2 separate regions of the Homo sapiens genome follow, and region 2 is linked to region 1. Evidence: fine-mapped expression QTL. Tissue or cell type: whole blood. Region 1 holds a variant in brackets; the other region holds the start of a gene. All regions are shown on one strand. Distances are between the middles of the regions.

Region 1 (2,836 bases):
GCCTGATGTCTGCATGTTCACAGTGGCACACAGTGAACAGCAGCTGTGATCATTAGTGTCCTTTTCAAGTGGACTGGATTAAACAGTCACAGATTAGAAGTGATTCTGGTTCAAAGGAGCCATCTTCAGTCCCTAGGCCCCCATTGTAGAAGAAGTGCCTAAAATCTGGGCTTGGGATTTTGGCACATGCTGCTGGGTAGGGTCCTCAGTCTTTCTCCTGATTCCCCATGTGAAGTAGTTTGCAGAGGGACCCCTTGCTTACAAGCTCACAAGGAAACCCCACCACACTCCAGATCGAAGCAACCCTTTTCCATTAAAAAAAAAAAAAAAAATTAGTCCTAGAGCTTTCAGCTTTAGTTCATCAACTGGGAGAAAGGTGGTAGAGATCTTAAGGCCCAGAGAGGTATCTTTCCCTAAAAGTGTGTACTTATTAATGGATGGCAGGTATGAGAGATTAAGCCTATGACTATGGTCAGGGTGTGGTGTATGGCCAGGGTCAGGATTCAGTCTGTGACAAGGGTTAGGGCTCAGTGTGTGACAAGGGTTAGGACTCAATGTGTGACCAGGATCAAGGCTCAGTGTGTGACCAGGATCAGGGTTCAGTGTATACCTAGGGTCAGGGCCCAGTGTGTGACCAGGGTCAGGGCTCAGTCTGTGACCAGAGTCAGGGCCCAGTGTGTAGCCAGGCTCAGGGCTCAGTGTGTGACCAGGATCAGGGCTCAGTGTGTGACCAGGATCAGGGCTTAGTGTGTGGCCAGGGTCAGGGCTCAGTCTGTGACCAGAGCCAGGCTCATTTAGAGACAGCCCTCTCACACTTGGTTGCTACCATCAACCTAACTGTTCACAGCATGCTGCCACCACATCATGAATATTAAAAATGGGAACAGCAGCCTCCAGTTCAGTGCAGAGATTAGGTTCCTCATGAGTAGAATGAGATCAGAATTCCCCAGGGCACACAGCATGTTTGAAAGGACGAACTCCTGTCCCATCACTGGCAGTTTGGCTCTTTAGCAGGCCTGGGTTTCCAGCACATTCCTGCTCCTCAGGGCCTGTCTTAGCCATTCAAGACCCAGGGTCACCTAAGTGGTAGAAGCCATTCTAGGGAAGGAGGAGGAAGGAAGAAGGGGGTATCCAGGAAACAAAGGAGGCTGCTGGGGGCTCGGGGAGGCAGGGAATCCCTCCTGCTGCTGGGAAAGGGGGATGGGAACAGAAACAGCATCCCACGTGCCAGGCGCCTGGAGCAGCCAGGAGGGCTGTCGGCAGGGCAGATGGAGAAGCAGCCTGCGCGGCCCTCCCAGCTCCCCGGGGGCCTGTGGGCAGCAGGGGGAGCCAAAGCCCTTCCTTCCAAGAGCTCTTTACATAAGTGCTTGGAAAGGCCGGGCCTTATTAGAGTGTCTCAGTCTCTGTGACCCTGACCGCAGGCA[G/A]GCAGCTGGGCCAGCGTGCACAGGAAGCTGGACAGAGCGTTCCCAGAAAGGCCACGGGACTGACGCCTGTGGGTTTCCATCGTGTTTCTGGAGGAAAAAGGAGGCTTAAAAAAAAAAAAGTACTGAGTTAGAAAAAACAAGAAAGTATTTCCAGACAGTAGCAGCTCTGCTAATGGCCTAGAAAACAATCTGGGACTAGGGCATGGGGAGGGGAATGTGCTGAGACTGTGCCCTGGGTGGGTGGGAGTCCATCAAACCCCTCCTTTTGGAGCTGGGCTGAGGGGGTCGGAACTTTCTCTTGAGGGAAATGTAGGCCCATGCCTGCCCTGCCACGAGGGATCTGGGCTGTGGGAGGGACGCCCTGGCTGAGGAGGCCACGGGGGCCTACTTTGCAGCCCCTCATTGACCCACTGTCTTTCCTTCCTCAGATCCTGATCTCCGGGAGGGACAGATGGCCAATCTCTCCCCTTCCAAAGCAGGCCCTGCTCCCCGGGCAGCCTCCCGCCGAGGGGCCCAGCCCCCAACCCACAGGCACGGAGGGGCATCCCTCCCTGCCGGCCTCAGGGAGCGAACGTGGATGAAAACCACAGGGATTCCGGACGCCAGACCCCATTTTATACTTCACTTTTCTCTACAGTGTTGTTTTGTTGTTGTTGGTTTTTATTTTTTATACTTTGGCCATACCACAGAGCTAGATTGCCCAGGTCTGGGCTGAATAAAACAAGGTTTTTCTACTCTGTGGCTCTGCATGCGGCCTGCTGGCTGGCTGGCCAGCCACAGCTAGTTTGGGCCTGGGGGATGTCCTTAGGCATCATCCTTCCCCTCGCCAAATGTGGAAAGGGCAGCCACCACCCGGTCAGGACCACAGTGACCATGAGGGCGCTGAGCCCATCGTGGAAGCCTGTGGGGTTGAGCCCTTGGCCAAGCCTGTCGCATGGGAATGGGACCACATCCGACTAGGGGAGGGCCCTGCAGCGGGGTGGGCGGCACCAGCCTGCTCTCCCTGCTCAGCCCCTGCTCCTATCTGGGCTCGTGTGCCCACTGCTGCCCCTTCTCAGCCTTCAGCCTCACACTCCCACCGGTCCCCCTCCTGGCCCTCTCACTCTCACACCGTTCACTCTCCACCAGCCACCCACTCCCTTACAATTGCAGGCTCCCGAACTCAAGTCTCCTGAAGGCCAGGTGCTGTGCTAGGGCACACGCAGGAGCATCGTAGCTTCTGCCCTCAGGGAGCGCATAACCACAGGGAACGGGGAGCACGCGTTGCCCAGTGAGGCAGCACCTAGGGGTTCTGGGGAGCCTTCACATGGGAGAGAGCCTCCTTCCAGGCAGGGAGGGGAGAAGAGGATTCTTGGCAGAGAGACAGCATTGAGCAGAGATCATGAGGTGGGGCTGCAGGCCGACAGGGTGTG
Region 2 (2,500 bases), 25 kb before region 1:
TTTATAAGCCCAAGAGGGCAATTTCTGCCCTTCGGTTCCCAGGAACACGGTTGGAGAAGGCAGCCCAGGGGAGGCCAGAAGAGCAGTATTTGGAGTGTGATTTCTTGGATGCCAAAGCGTTCAAACTTCTGGGACCCCCTCCTATCCCTGCCATTCCCAGAAGGAACAGAGAATCTCCCAAAGCACTCTCAGGAGCCATCTGGCCTAATCTTCCATTGGTAAGCCGTGGCACCTGGATCAGATAGAGTAAGGGACTAAGCCACACAGCAACAGGACCAGGCCAGGTCTCCGGAACCCCCTTCTGTTGTTCAATGCTTACTGGCTTCTCTGCCTCACAGTGACCCCTGTCCCATATCAAAGACAGCCCCCAGTTTCATTTTATCCATGTGTACACTCAAGTTATTCCCAGGCTATGCAGAGCCAAGAGATGTAGGACAGAAACCATACGTGATGTCTGGGAAGTTGATCTCTCCCAGGATCTCACAAGTGCTTTTCAGCTCAGGGATACACCCCACTCTTCAGACTGGGAAAGTAAGCCCCTGAGGTGTGCCACGAGGGAAAAGGTGCAGCTCCAGTGCCTCTCTTCGCAGGCCCAAGAGCTGCGGTGCACCTGGGACCTGGAATTAGAGAGTGGTCCCTGTTCAGCATCTCCCCGAGGAGGCCCACCAACAAAGAGGGTGTGTCTTTTTTTTTTTTTTCTTCCTATTGAGGGTGTGGGATAATGGTGGAAGGAACATGCAAAGAGGGTGTGTCTTAATTAGCACTGGCTTTAGGGAACAAGGAAAAGGGAGAACCCGGGAGTACGGGAAGGAGGCTGGGGCAGACAGGAGTCAGAGGCCCATTCCAGCCCAAACGAGAAGCCAGTGAGCAAGGTGGAGACCAGGGATGCTGTGACCAAAGCAGAGAGGAATGGGCGGGGTGGTGCTGACACCCCAGCCCCGTTCTGCCTGCCAGAGCCCCACTTACCAGGCCCGAGTCCCCAGAGGTCCCCTCCTACTCCCTGCTCGATTCCCTTCCTCAGAGGCAGGTCTGTGGCTTGGCTGGGAACTCCAGGGACTGAGGGAGCACTGCAGCTGTGGGACCGGCGCATAGCTAAAAGCCGGCGGGCCATAGGGCCCCGCGGAGGAGGCCCCAGCAGGCGGACCAGGAGGCCGAAGCCTCCCGACGCTCCCAGCCTGTTGCTTATTCATTCAGAGTGGGAAAGCGCCAGCCGAGCGGCCAGCCAGTGCGGGGCTGGCCATGTAAGGCCCACAGGCGGTCCTGCCCGCCCGGTGCCCTGCGGAGAGCCTCGTGCAGCCCTGGGCACCGCCCCTGCCCTGCCCTGACCCCTTGGCCTTGAAATGCTGTCATCGGAGGAGCCGTCCCGCTCGGGACAAGGCCAGCATGGACAAAGCTAGAGCTGGGGCAAGCAAGGAGCCTTCCTGTCCTCGAGGCCGTGGGAAGAGAAGCACGCCCAGGGGGCCACTCCTGAGAGCCTCTCTGTCCACCAGGCCTCTGCAGAGGGGTCACCATGGCTCTGGCCCGAGGCAGCCGGCAGCTGGGGGCCCTGGTGTGGGGCGCCTGCCTGTGCGTGCTGGTGCACGGGCAGCAGGCGCAGCCCGGGCAGGGCTCGGACCCCGCCCGCTGGCGGCAGCTGATCCAGTGGGAGAACAACGGGCAGGTGTACAGCTTGCTCAACTCGGGCTCAGAGTACGTGCCGGCCGGACCTCAGCGCTCCGAGAGTAGCTCCCGGGTGCTGCTGGCCGGCGCGCCCCAGGCCCAGCAGCGGCGCAGCCACGGGAGCCCCCGGCGTCGGCAGGCGCCGTCCCTGCCCCTGCCGGGGCGCGTGGGCTCGGACACCGTGCGCGGCCAGGCGCGGCACCCATTCGGCTTTGGCCAGGTGCCCGACAACTGGCGCGAGGTGGCCGTCGGGGACAGCACGGGCATGGCCCGGGCCCGCACCTCCGTCTCCCAGCAACGGCACGGGGGCTCCGCCTCCTCGGTCTCGGCTTCGGCCTTCGCCAGCACCTACCGCCAGCAGCCCTCCTACCCGCAGCAGTTCCCCTACCCGCAGGCGCCCTTCGTCAGCCAGTACGAGAACTACGACCCCGCGTCGCGGACCTACGACCAGGGTTTCGTGTACTACCGGCCCGCGGGCGGCGGCGTGGGCGCGGGGGCGGCGGCCGTGGCCTCGGCGGGGGTCATCTACCCCTACCAGCCCCGGGCGCGCTACGAGGAGTACGGCGGCGGCGAAGAGCTGCCCGAGTACCCGCCTCAGGGCTTCTACCCGGCCCCCGAGAGGCCCTACGTGCCGCCGCCGCCGCCGCCCCCCGACGGCCTGGACCGCCGCTACTCGCACAGTCTGTACAGCGAGGGCACCCCCGGCTTCGAGCAGGCCTACCCTGACCCCGGTCCCGAGGCGGCGCAGGCCCATGGCGGAGACCCACGCCTGGGCTGGTACCCGCCCTACGCCAACCCGCCGCCCGAGGCGTACGGGCCGCCGCGCGCGCTGGAGCCGCCC

The links. PIP is the estimated chance that this variant, and not a neighbour inherited with it, causes the effect.
Region 2: it holds the start of LOXL1, and the variant in region 1 is fine-mapped to the expression of LOXL1 in whole blood (TOPMed, PIP above 0.99).

What each region holds. Positions count from the first base shown.
Region 1 is chr15:73,949,979-73,952,814 of GRCh38, forward strand. LOXL1 (lysyl oxidase like 1) reads left to right here. Exons shown (of 7, transcript NM_005576.4): 7 at 1,853-2,158. The coding sequence ends at 1,859. Among named protein-coding and RNA genes, the nearest start is that of LOXL1-AS1, 23 kb to the left of the region's middle. RefSeq lists an enhancer at 2,553-2,836. The variant G/A (reference allele first, on the strand shown) is at 1,425.
Region 2 is chr15:73,925,274-73,927,773 of GRCh38, forward strand. LOXL1 (lysyl oxidase like 1) reads left to right here and starts at 1,189. Exons shown (of 7, transcript NM_005576.4): 1 at 1,189-2,500. The coding sequence starts at 1,511. The region is part of intron 1 of LOXL1-AS1 (LOXL1 antisense RNA 1); the gene reads right to left. RefSeq lists an enhancer at 1,695-2,500 and a silencer at 2,437-2,500.